Homo sapiens: one gene and its partner. The protein of the gene in region 2 purifies or fractionates together with the protein of the main gene of each other region. This does not show direct contact. Each region holds a gene or a part of one and is shown on either strand. Other genes may lie near its edges.

What was found. Proteins that work in one complex are often made in the same cells at the same time.
Region 1: the proteins of HDAC11 (region 2) and PAXBP1 purify together in Homo sapiens (co-immunoprecipitation; 4 studies listed by BioGRID and IntAct, with this or other methods). This does not show direct contact.

Annotation. Positions count from the first base shown.
Region 1 is NC_000021.9:32,733,735-32,740,760, forward strand, and holds the end of PAXBP1 (PAX3- and PAX7-binding protein 1), read right to left. Parts: intron 4,608-7,026; exon of another isoform or gene 4,586-4,607; coding exon 4,439-4,585; intron 3,675-4,438; coding exon 3,520-3,674; intron 1,334-3,519; coding exon 1,216-1,333; 3' UTR 165-1,215; downstream 1-164. UniProt on the Homo sapiens protein: Adapter protein linking the transcription factors PAX3 and PAX7 to the histone methylation machinery and involved in myogenesis.
Region 2 is NC_000003.12:13,483,281-13,490,306, reverse strand, and holds part of HDAC11 (histone deacetylase 11), read right to left. Parts: intron 6,844-7,026; coding exon 6,743-6,843; intron 1-6,742. UniProt on the Homo sapiens protein: Responsible for the deacetylation of lysine residues on the N-terminal part of the core histones (H2A, H2B, H3 and H4).

The DNA.
Region 1 (7,026 bases), on a different chromosome or scaffold from region 2:
AATATGTAGGGATAAGATAAAATTAACAGAGCAAATACAGTGCATGACACTGTTCTGCATATTATGTCCTGATCAAGGGTACACATGGGCCTGCTCACAGTCCCACTTTATTAGAGTCATTTGAAATGCTGCAAATTTAGTCGTCAGGAAAATACAACAAAGGATATATTTAAAAATTAATTTAATGCTTGGCTAAATCTTAATTACATATATAATTATCAAACGATAGTCCTTAATTTCCAAAAAAATTCCTCTTTTGAAAATCACAGAATCAGAAAGCATAAACTTTAAAACAAGTTCTCTGAATATTTACAATGTGGTATAAACATTATAGAAGACCATGGATATTAAATTGCCTGGGTGTGGCTAATCAGCAAGGCGTATTCTTTATTGCATATTTAACTCACATATGTGGGATTTTAAATATGACAGACTACTAAAATTCAAATGCATGTATCTGCAAGCTGGGCAGGGAGTAAAATCATGAATGAGACAGGACGGTCAGCCCAAAACCATGCAATTAGGTTGTGGGTTTATTATTTTCAAAAGTGAAATTTCTATGTTCCATTTGAAACTATGTTGCATATTCATTTAGCATTCACATTAAACCCACATTTGACTCTAACGCTGATTCAAGGAAGAAAGTTCAACATTCACTCAATGACTAAGTCCACAACTCAACTCTCAATGTTAAGGCAGCACAGCTACAGTGATAGCAACGCTAACCAAAAGGTAATGAACATTTAGTCACTTGCCAGCCCTTTTGTTACAACAGTGTAGTAATTTCCCTAAGACAATTTGCTACCGGATAATTTTCTGCTGTTAAAAGGCTTCCTCTGTGGAAAAACACCACAAATTTCCAGTGTGAAAGTAAGTCCATGGTGGTATAAATATATATATGCATAATTACACAATTTACACTGCACACATCGTTTACAGGGGACAATTAACTGAGAGGGTTAATTTAAATGACCATACAAAATACTTCAGTAAACAAAGTATGACAGGCAGTAAAGAAAACATTCATAGACTCCTAGAAATAATCTGAATTCCTTTCATTCTGAAGAAATATCATTTAAGGACACAGTATTGAATATAATGTTTTTTGTATTAAAACAAGAATTGCTATTTTACAGTTTAAGAAACTTTACATATATACAAAATTTACACATTGGGAATGGTAATCAAGCAAATAGGTTTTTCAGTCTCATAGATCTATTTTCCTTCGATCAAAGACTTAAATTCTTTCACATTGTGGTCACTTGCAACAGACATAGCATGATCCAAAGCTCGAACACTTGCAAGGAGTTTTACTATCTGTTTTATGTTTTCCCTAAAAGAAAAAAATATAGCAGCATCTCATTAATTAGTATATCTAAGAGAAAATTTGCTACTGATTTCATGGCTATTTTAGAGCTTCTGCAATCAATTTTTCCAAGCACACATTTTCAAAGAAAGGAAACAGATATGCAAGCTACAGCATGTTAAAAAAAAAAAAGTTTACATTTATCCATATAGAACAAAACTTACATATGTTTAAATGACTAGCCCAGAGACAGGGGACCCATTTTAAAAAAGCAAAACAAAATTCATTGAGATCAATGAGTTTCATTAATATTGAGAAAGAAAAGAAAGCAATCTGTTTTCAAACTACTTCAGAGGCCTGTCTCCCATTCCTTCCCAAACCAGAGTCCTGGCTGTTTTAGCGTATACCTGGAACACAAATCGTTATTTGTGTCTCTTCATCACCAATCTGTCAAGATCCAGCATAATTTCCACTCCACCAAAATTCACTAAATAAAGTATAATCTGACTTTCCTTATCACTCCAGCTAGAAGTCATTCTGCTTTCTTACTAGGAAGTAATCCTCAAATTTTAGCACACATTAGAATTACCTAGAGGATTGTTGAAATGCAGATCATCCCTGGCCCCACCCCAAGAGTTCTATTCAAGAGGCCCAGAGTGGGGCCCCGAGAACTTGCAAGTCTATCAGACTCCCATGCCATGCTGATACTGCTGGTCCAGGGACCACACTTTAAGAATGACTGTTTTAACATTTAGCTTAAACCACTCACGAGAAACAAGACATAATATGACATTAGTAATTGTCTCATCTCTTCTACAGAATTGTAGTAAGCACCTATTAGGGAAGAATTAGAATTTGCAAAACTTTCCAACCCACATGAAACCTGCTTTATGTGCACTGCACAAAGCAGGTGCTTACATAGCTGTTAAAGTTCTTTTCTGTAGAAAAGTAAACACTATTTGTTGATATTTAACTTCCAAACAGAAACACTGTTAAATATATGTAAATCAAAGTTTAAAATGTGATAAAATTTATCTAGTAGAAAACACAGAGAAAAAAATATTAGTGCCAACAAATAACAAAATGGCACACACTAAGAACAAAATCAAATCAGCCAAAACCTGCCAAAGAATTTTACCATTAAAATCTTTTTTGTTGTTGTTTTTTGAGACGGAGTGTTGGTCTTTCACCAGGCTGGAATGCAGTGGCGCAATCTCAGCTCACTGCAACCTCTGCCTCCCAGGTTCAAGCAATTCCCCTGCCTCAGCCTCCCGAGTAGGTGGGACTATAGGCACGCACCACCACACCCAGCTAATTTTTGTATTTTTAGTAGAAACAGGGTTTCACCATGTTGGCCAGGATGGTCTCCATCTCCTGACCTCATGATCCACCTGCCTCAGCCTCCCAAAGTACTGGGATTACAGGCATGAGCCACCATGCCTGGCCTAAAATCTTTAATAGCTACTTTAATTTTATTGTGGAAAAAATATCCAATTTTCTTGCAGGAAAATAGGTCCTTTTTCAAGAAAGGGGAATGAGGGATCAGAAGAAGGTTTTGTTATAGGGGTATGACTAATGGTGTGATCTAAACAAAAATTAGACTTTGACATTATGAAGATATATGAAATTAAAATTTTAAAAAGACAATTCCTTCAAACTGCCCTACTTAGTGTTATTATTTACTTTTTATGCTAGAGATTTATCCCAGAATTACCTGAACACCCATAAATTAATGTCCACAGAAAGGCTAATGGTTCACTCACTCTTTTCTTACAACCCTTGATAAAAATTAGAAATAAGTTGCCCCAAAAAGCCATGAGTGATAACCTCTAGTTCATAATATTGATTAAAACAAAAAATCTCCCCAAATTGGGAGATAAACTTGAATTTAAATCTGCATAATGAAACTCCAAACAAGAGAGTCTGAGACCTCTCTAATTCTTCAAAGAGGGAGACAGAGAAAACAACCGTTTACTCACTCCCCTGAGGGTTGGTCCTTACCAGAAGTCTTTCCTTAGTATCTTCATAAATAACATACTGAAAAAAAGTAAAAACTGCTAAAATGAAAAATTATGTGCATTTTTGGTAGGTTTATAATACTAAGTGAACATACAATTTAAACTAAAATATAAACATCTCTACTTAAAACATTTTAATACTAAATCTGGCAACTAAACAACTCTAGATTACCATTTCATTAATTACAAAATTACCTTGCATTTCTTTTTTCCACATCAGAACACCCGATACTATTTCTATAAATTGTATCCGCTAAGTGTACAAGGTATCGGCAAAAGTTTTCTAACTGAGAAATAGTCCTTTCTCCTTTCAGATTCATGAACCATTGTTTGGGGAAACAATTGATTACCTGTGGAGAAGAAAGACGTAAAATAAAATAGTTAAGACAGAATAAATTAAAGTATTAAAAGCAAAGTCTAGTTAATGGGTATAAATGTATTTCACCAGAAGACGTGCTTCTGAGCTACAGCAATTACTCTGAAGAAATATTCTTTTAAATCTGACTTCCTACATTAACTAAACCAATATACCTAAATTTTTACCCCAACCAATGGGTTAGGCACTCAAAGCAAAAGATAATCTGTCCAATATTTGAGTAAATTAGTAACATAAAACTGACAACCAACTGCTTCATTTTCCAGTCTTCTAGGATGGCCTAAATATACTGAATTTCCTTTTCCAGCAGCTTTTGATGTAAAAATGAGTGGTATAAAAATGAAATTACAGCACCCCCATCCCCTGCAATAATTCCACGAATAGACATCCATGCATGCTGCTAAGGGAAGTCGAGTTGGCCCAGACTGAGGTTAAGATAATAAGGTTATTATTCTGAAATCAAAACTTTTATTTATACCTATAAAAATATCAAAACTTTCACTAATATCTATAAAAATATGGATATAGATGGATATATATATATATAACAGTATGCATTTTTATGTAAAAAATGCTGTAGGGGGTTGGAACTACCTGGGTAGGCAAACTGTCAACCTTACATGCAAGTCCAGTAATCAAAGGGGTTTCATAAAATTCTCAAATCCCTCTTCAAACAAACAAAAACTTAATTCATTTTAAATTATATGCTTTAAAAACTGTACTATGCATTTAACTCACATTTTGGGCTTTTTTGATGCTGTCATCTCCATATTCTGAATTCTGAAAAGCCATGAGAATATATCGATTTAATAAACCATCTATTGATAACTCTTGCAGAGTTTTATTTGAGAAAATGCCATACCACTGAAGAAAATTGCCTAACAGCTGGAAAGAAGAAAAAAAATAGGTAATGTGAAACAATTAGATTAGGTACAAAGTAAATAAGTTACATAGTAAAACACCATATGAAATACAGCAGACCATGTCTTGCCAAAGTACTAAGAAATATTAATACTTTCAAAGGTACAGATATTTCCTAGAATGGTTACATTTGAATATTCAATTTTAATTAGTCAAAATCGAAACAGCCACATGTAGCTAGTGGCTACAGCACTGGTCAGCACAGATACAGAACATTTTCCATCATTGCAGACAGTACTATCAGGGAGTGCTGAGTCTTAGGTAAGTGTCCTCCATTCAAAATTACACTCTAGCTGGTTCTATGCACACCCCCACCCCGCCCCGCGCTGCCCACAAAAGATGGGAGAGTCTGACTACAACCCTGCATGGCTACCATGTATCATGAACTACAACCAAGTTATATCACTTATGCATCTCAAGCTACCCAAGCTCAATCAATATATAGAAAATGAAAGCTATCATCATAAAATGAAAGCCCCATCCCATCCCACCATAAAAACTTATAGTTTCCCAGTTGTTTCTCAACTTAGTAAATGGTAACACTATTCAACCAGCTGCTTGCGGCAGAGGTCTGGAGGTCATTCCTGACCTCTCTCTCAAGTTGTGTGTCTCCACGACCATCCAGTCTGTCCATTTCCCTCAGTTCCTGCTGCCATCCTCCGAATCTGACCCACCTTAATCTCTTCAGAACCCTGCAGTTACTCCAGTGATTATGAGCAAGAGCACTGAGTAGCCTTTCTGAAGCAGGGCTCTGCAAGAGTTCTAAACCTACAGAAAATGATTTGTGTGGCTCTTTACTCAGTTCTCCCAAGAATGATACATAGCTAGTACTGTTACAGATGCAGGGGAAAAAGAAGAATTCATTATAGACAATGGAGGCCTTAGGGCATTAGGTATTAAGTCTCCCACAGAAGCCCAGTTGAGAAGAGCAGCTCAAGAGTCAGACTGGCTGAGTTTGATTCCCATCTCTAATTACCAATGGAATGACCTTGTGCAGGTTATTGTGTGCCTCACTACCCCATCAGTAAAGTGAAAAAACAGCGTGTACCTCATTGAGCCATTCTGAGGATTCAACAAGATAATCTATGTAAAAGGTGCGGGACAGTGCTTGGTACATAGTAAACACACAGTAAGTACTAGTTCCCATAAAATACACAATAAATACCAGTTCCCATTTTCACTATCACTATCCATACCTACTTCAATCTATTATCTCCACATAGCAGACAGAGTAATCTTAAAAATGGTAATTTATAGACCTGTGGTTACGGCCGGGCGCGGTGGCTCACACCTGTAATCCCAGCACTTTGGGAGGCTGAGGCGGGCAGATCACGAGGTCAGGAGATCGAGACCATCCTGGCTAACATGATGAAACCCCGTCTCTACTAAAAATACAAAAAAGTAGCCGGGCGTGGTGGTGGGCGCCTGTAGTCCCAGCTACTCGGAAGGCTGAGCCAGGCAATTTATGGCTGGGCACAGTGGCTTATACCTGTAATCCCAGTACTTTGGGAGGCCAAGGAAGGAGGACCACTTGAGCTCAGGAGTTTGAGACCAGCCTAGGCAACACAAGACCTCGTCTCTTTAAAAAAAAAAAAAAAAAAAAAAAAAAAAAGGCAATTTGTTTACTTACCTTAAACCCTTCCATGACACATATAGTTAACTGGTTTTCAACAAAGGCACAAAAGCAATTCAATGGACTGTGAAAGGGAAATATCTTGGGCCTCTTCAAGCTGGGGACCCCGCTGAGGGCAAATCTGCCTCCCATTCTATTCAAAGTCATCTCTCAGCTCACAGAGATAGATGCATATTCTGATTGCCTCTTCTGGAAAAACTTATCAGAAACTCCAAAGAATGCAACCATCCCTCTCTCACCTACATGTGACCTGGAAGTCCCCAATGGGGGGGCCTTGCTTTGAGCTGTCTCCACCTTTCTGGATGGAACTAATGTATTTCTTACATATTGATTGATGTCTCGTGTCTCCCTAAAATGTATAAAACCAAGCTGTGCCCCGACCACCTTGGGCACATGTCATCAGAACTTCCTAAGGCTGTGTCACAGGTGTGTCCTCAATCTTGGCAAAATAAACTTTCTAAATTAACTGAGACCTGTCTCAAATTTTTGGTGTTCATAGGACAAAGGAATTTTTGGTGTTCACAGAAAAGGCTATCGCCTTTTCAACAAATAGTGCTGGAACAAGTAAACCTTAATCCAGGCCTCACACCCTATAATAAAAATTAACCTGAAAAGAGTCACAGACCTAAATGTAAAACCTAAAACTATGAAACTTCTAGAAGAAAGGATAGGAGAAAACCTTTGTGGCTTCATATTAGGCAAAGATTTCTTAGATATGACATCTAAAGCACAATCCATAACAGGAAAAAAAGATCAACTGGACTTCATCAAA
Region 2 (7,026 bases):
AAAAAGAACAAAGTTGGCTGGGCACGGTGGCTCATGCCTGTAATCCCAGCACTTTGGGAGGCAGAGGCAGGCAGATCATGAGGTCAGGAGTTTGAGACCAACCTGACCAACATGGTGAGACCTCATCTCTACTAAAAATAGAAAAATTAGCTAGGCGTGGTGCCGGGCGCCTGTAATCCCAGCTACTCGGGAGGCTGAGGCAGGAGAATCACCTGAAACCAGAAGGCGGAGGTTGCAGTGAGCCGAGATCGCGCCATTGCACTCCAGCATAGGCGACAAAGCGAGACTGCGTCTCAAAAAAAAAAAAAGAACAAAGTTGGAGGCCTCACAATCTGGAATTTCAAAATTTGCTCCAAAGCCACAATAACCACAGTAAGCCACAGTAACAGTACCAAAATAGTGTGGTATTGACATATAGATCAAATGAATAGAATTGGCTGGGCGCAGTGGCTCACACATGCCTGTAATCCCAGTACTTTGAGAGGCCGAGGTGAGCAAATCACTTGAGGTCACGAATTCAGGACCAGCCTAGCCAACATGGTGAAACCCCATCTCTACCAAGAAACACAAAAATTAGCCAGGCATGGTAGCACACGCCTGTAGTCCCAGCTACCTGGGAGGCTGAGATGGGAGAATTGCTTGAACCCAGGAGACGGAGGTTGCAGTGAGCCAAGATGGAGCCACCGTACTCCAGCCTGGGCTGTCGAAAGAATGCAACCCTTTCTTAAACAAACAAACCAAAAAAATGAATAGAATTGAGAGTCTAGAAATAAATCCATACATCTATGGCCAGTTGATTTTCTACAAAGGTACCAAGACCATTCAACAGGGGAAAAACAGCCTAACAAATGGTGCTGGGATAACTGGATATCTGAGTACAAAACAATGAAGTTGGACTTGCCTCACACATATACAAAAATTAACTCAAAATTTATCAAGGCCTAAATATAAGTGAAAACTATAAAACTCTTAGAAGAAAACACATGCGGTAAACCTTCATGACCTTGGGTTTGGCAATGGATTCTTAGATATGACACCTAAAGAAAAGGAAAAAAAGATAAATTGGACTTCAGCAAAACTAAAATTTTTGTGCATCAAAGGACACTATCAAAAAAAAGACAACCCACAGAATGGGAGGAGTTATTTACAAATTAAATAATATCCAGAATATATAAAGAACCCTACAACTCAACAAAAAGACAAGCCAATTTTAAAAATGGACAAAGGACTTGAATAAACATTTCTCCAAATGACATATACAAATAGCCAATCAGCACATGAAAAGATCCTCAGTGTTAATTAGCCATTAGGTAAATGCAAATTAAAACCATGAGATACCACTTCACATCCAGTAAGATGGCCACACTGGGGGGGAAAAAAAAAAACACCAGAAAATAACAAGCATTGAAAAGGATGTAGAGAAATTGGGACCCTGGTACATTACTGGTGGAAATGGTGCAGCCCCCGTGGAGATCACCTTGATGGTTCTTCAGAAAATTAAACAGAATTACCATGTGACCCAGTAATTCTACTCCTAGGTGTATACCCCAAATAACTGAAAACAGGTATTCTAATAAATACTCGTATGCACATGTCCACAGCAACACTACTCACAATAGCCAAAAGGCCTATAAACTAATGAATGGATAAAAAAAATGTAGTGTTTTACAATGGAATATCATTCTGCTGTGAAAAGGAATGAAGTACTGATACATGCTACAACACAACACAGATGAATGTTGAAAACGCTGTGCTTAGTGAGATAAGCCAGACACAAAAGGTCACATATTGTATGATTCCATTTATATGAAATATCCAGGATAGGCAAATCCATAGAGAGAGAATGCAGGTGAGTGATTACCAAGGGGACTTGGGGGGATAAATGGGGAGCAAGTGTTTAAAGGACACAGGGTTTCCTTTTGGAGTGATGAAAATGTTTGGAACTAGAGATGATGGTTGCAGCACTTTGTGAATGGACTAAAGGCCACTGAACTGTACAGTTTAAAGTGGTTAATGGCGAATTTTGTTATGTAAATTTTACCACAATTAAAAAAAATTTTTTTTTAAAGGAGAGAGGAGCCCCTCAGGGAAGAGAAGAGAGAGTTGGAGACCAAGAGGAGCTCACTCCCCTAGAGACTCTCCAGGGTCCCTCCAGGTGCTCCATGGAGCTATGGTCTGTGTCTCCTTCTCTCCACACTATACTGGAACTCATGACAGATAGTTCTGCCCTGGGATCTTTGCACTTGCTGTTTCTTCTGCTTGGAATGCCCTTCCCCAGATGACCACATCACCCACTCCCTCACTCCCTTCCCACATGTCACCTGTGATCACAGGTAGTAAGCCCTTTCCTGACTCCTGATTTAAAACTGCCATCCTCTCACCAGCTCTCCCCACCCCTTTTCTGCTGTCCCTTCCTTTCTTCACGACACTCAGCACCATCTAACATATTATCTCATTACTTAATTATTACATTTATTGTCTGACTCTCCCACCTAAATGCCAGCTCCAGCAGGAAAGGGATGTGGTCTTTTGCTCCATCCCATCCCTGCAGCACCTAGATCACAGAGTGGTGCCCTCTGAGCACTTGCTGGATCCACGTGTTCTGAGCACTGTCCAGTGCAGAGTGCACAGGGGCAGGATGTCAGATGCTGCCCAGCACTAACCGACACTCCATGGCAAACTGTCACCCGAGAATCAACCAAAGGCAAGAGCCCAGTGCTGGGGCACTGGGGAGCTCAACAGCTACCCTCAGAGGGGCCAACCCTGGACCTTGCACACAGCAGGAGCTTGATAAACATGGGTTTCCCTGAATTGACATCTTGCAAACGTCCAGCTCCTGCTTCTCCTTCAGTGCCCTGTTTATTAAGTATCAAAGGCCACACCAGTGCAGAGTCAGGCATGAGCCCCAGGCAGGGGTTGGGGGTAGAATGGGATGAGGCAGGGGAGACGGTGGATGTTACACAGCACACACAGAATGACCAGGGAAAAGCAGCCTGAGAAACCTGAAGGACTCTCTAGGGCACTCTCTGGGCGCCCACAGCAGAGGAAGGAGAAAAGAAACATTGCAGACATCTGCAGGGAGGTGGGAGATGTTCCTGAGCTGCAGCCTTAGGTGCCAGATGATGTCTGAAACGGGCTTGGGTCCCACCTGGGCAGCAAGGGCATGTCACACCATATCACCCTCCTGCTGAAAACCCCCTCGTGACTGTCCAAGGTCCCTGGAACAACATATACACTCCTCCCACGGCCTGCAAGACCTTGTGTGGCCTGGGGCTCTGGCCTCCCTAACTGCACCGTGTACGAGCCACAATGTTTTATTCCCTTCCATCCGGCCTCCCAAGCATTCTTCTCCCCTTTGGAAGATCAAGTCCCCTCCACCCTCCAGGCCTGGGATTCTGAAACATTCTTCCTTCAAAGCTATACATGAGGGCCAGGAGCAGTGGCTCATGCCTGTAATCCCAGCACTTTGGGAGGCCGAGGCAGATGGATTGCTTGAGGTCAGGAGTTCGAGACCAGCCTGGCCAACATGGTGAAAACTCCGTCTCTACTAAAAATACAAAAATTAGCCGGGCATGGTGGCAGGTGCCTGTAATCCTAGCTACTTGGGAGGCTGAGGCAGGAGAATCGCTTGAACCAAGAGGCAGAGGTTGCTGTGAGCTGAGATCGCACCACTGTACTCGAGCCTGGGCAACAAAGCGAGATTCCTTCTCCAAAAAAAAAAAAAAAAAAAAAAAACACCTCTACATGAGTATCACCTGCTCCTTTGTTTAGTCTCAACTCAAACATCACCTCCTCTGTGAGGCCCTCCCTGACCATCCAATTACCCTCTATTTTTCACTTTCTTCATAGCCCTTGGTGCTCTCTAAAATGCTCTTGGGTGGTTGCTTCCTTAATTTTAATCTTCCACGACTCAAATGCAAATCCATGGTGGCAGAGAGCCCTGCTGTCTTATTCTCTCTGTACAGTTGGCATTCAATACAGATGTGTTGAATGACTGACTACTTCTTCATCTTTTTCTTTTTTTTTTTTTTTTTTTTTTGAGATGGAGTTTCACTCTTATTGCCCAAGCTGGAGTGCAATGGCGCAATCTCGGCTCACTGCAACCTCTACCTCCCAGGTTCAAGTGATTTTCCTGCCTCAGCCTCCCAGGTAGCTGGGATTACAGGCATGCACTACCATGCCTGGCTAATTTTGTAGTTTTAGTAGAGACAGGGTTTCTCCATGTTGGCCAGGCTGATCTCAAACTCCCGACCTCAAGTGATCCGCCCGCCTCGTTCTCCCAAAGTGCTGGGATTACAGGCATGAGTCACTGCACCCGGCCTACTTCTTCATCTTAATAGGTGCCGTAGAAACCATCATGTTTCTCCTTTTGTTCTGACTGCCAGGGAGCTCCAAGCCAAATATGCAGCTGGATCACCATCTTGGTTAACTTTTTCAGTGGACATACCTGAATTCTCCTCCTACCCTCAACCTCAGTTTTCTACTTGGGACTCTACCTGTTAATACTTTTATTATTTTTTTTAAGAGACAGTCTCACTCTGTCATACCAGCTGGAGTGCAGTGGTGCAATCATAGCTCACTACAGCTTCAAACTCCTGGGCTCAAGGTCTCCTGCCTCAGGCTCCCAAGTAGCTAGGACTACAAGTGCATGCCACTACACCCAGCTATTTTGTATTATTATATATCACATAGTAAGCTGCTTTCAGGCTTTTGGGGGACCAAGGCCAGGCATGCAGCCTGCCCAACACAGTTCCCCTGAAGGCCCCTCAAATGGGTGGGGCCCTGGAACCTAGGCCCCCCACCCCCAGCCTGGTTCAATCACACCATTCTGTTTTGGTTTCTCCCTGCCCCAGCTGAGCGCCTCCTGTCCCTTCCTTCCCCTCACCCTCGGGACTCTGGCAGGCATGTCCTCCTGGCCCAGCCCTAGGCTGTGGACTGTGACCACGCATGCCTGGGCCCCAGGAAACCAGGGCAGCCAAGCACTGGGCTTCCTGCCAAGGCCTCACACCCCTCTCTCTCCCAGGAGCCAGGTTTCAACCTCTTCCTGGTAATCTTTCATGTGCTCACACTGTCGTGGCCCTATCTAGAATTCTCACACCTCAGGCTGCGGTTGGGGAGCAGGGAGGCAGCAGCCCTGACTGGGAACCTAGAAGACTGGACTGGATGACCTGCCAGGGGTCTCCCCAAGGCCCGGCCAACTTCCCAGGTGACCTTGAGCACAGCCTCTTTCTGGACCTAGGCTTTTCCACCTGTGGAGCAGAGGGGCCTGCTGGCCTCAGGCATCCACTGTGGCTCTGAGTCTAAGGTGAGCTCAGCCAGGGAGCCTGGGGGTCAGGGCTCCCACACTCTTGGGGCAGATAACCTGAGGCATCCCTGACCCCACCCCCACCAAGGCAGGCTGGCAGTACCAGATTCCAATGCAAGCCCCCGCCCCAACCTCCCCTCTGTTCCTACAAAGAGCACTGAACTGAATGCCTCAGCCCTCAGAACTTCAGCCACTAATAGGAGCTGTGTCCTTCTCTGGAAAGAGGTCACAAGCAGGCAGCCAGTGTGCCCAGTTTGGTCTACAGGTGGGCTTTTACAATCTTATAATGAGTGCCACATTAAGAAATCAGGGCCGGGTGTGGTGGCTCACCCCTATAATTCCAGCTACTTCGGAGGCTGAGGCAGAAAAATTGTTTGAACCCGGGAGGCGGAGGTTACAGTGAGCTGAGATCGTGCCACTGCACTTCAGCCTGCTCAACAAGAGCGAGACTCAGTCTCAAAAAAAAAATCAGGAAATGTCACTTAATAATCTGGATTCCTGGCTTCTCTTTGAAGACCAGGTGCTCTGGCCATGCCGGGCCCACAGTGGAGCTGAGGAGCCGCCCCTTGGGAAGGGGCAGGAGTTCACCTCAGACTCTACCACCGGCCCTCCCACTTGTTTCTCTTCTCTGCTGAGCCCTGAGGGTTTCAAATTAGTTTTTAGACCAACAATTTTCAACAAAACTTCAGCAGAAGTACTTAGACCAGAGTCTTAAACTTCAGCCCAATATAAAAAATAGGGTGGGTGCGGTGGCTCACGCCTGTAACCCCAGCACTTTGGGAGGCCGAGGTGGGCAGATGACCTGAGTTCAGGAGTTCGAGACCAGCTTGGCCAACACGGCGAAACCACATCTCTACTAAAATACAAAAAAAATTAGCCAGGCATGGTGGCACGCGCCTGTAATCCTAGCTACTCACTCAGGAGGGTGAGACAGGATAATTGCTTGAACCCGGAAGGCGGAGGTTGCAATGAGCCGAGATCACATCACTGCACTCCAGCCTGGGCGACAGAGTGAGACTCCATTTCAAGAACAAAAACCAACAAAAAAATGAACAAACAAACAAACAAAATAGACCAAAGTGAAAGAGCTATGTATGGTTGGAGGACAGGGGCTGGGGTCTCGGAGGCGTGTCGACAGAGCACAGCTTGAAAGTCATAATGTAGAAGCCTAAAATTCTATGAAGGCTTTCATACGCCCTGGAGAAGGGGAGGACACCACCCTCAGAGTGGCCTGGCCCAAACTGAGGTCTGCCTTTTTATGACCTCTCTCCTTCTCTTGGGGACCACAGACTCCCATGTTCCTCCAACACTAGGGACATGAATGGGTGCCCTGTGAGACTTGGCTTCCCCAGGCTGAGTCACCTCCTGCCTCTGGCCACTCCTGGCCAGCAGCCCCCTGCCCCAGGCCCGCAGCCCCCCAGGCCCGACATCCTGTACCTTGAGCTCATTAAGATAGCGCCTCGTGTGCACCACCAGCAGGTCCTCCTCCGAGGCCTCCCGCGCCTCCACCAGCATGCTGTCAGACAGAAGCTTCTCTTCTGAAACCACAGAGGGAGCATCCTGCTTCCCCACTGACCTCAAGGCCAGGGCCAGCCCCAGACCCTCCCACAGGCTGCAGACTTGGCCTGTGGCAGCCCCTGCCCCAGGGGTAGGTAGGCACTGCTGGCTTGTGGGCCTTCTGAGAAGGGGTAGCCTCCCCAGCCACTGTGGACAGTGGCCAG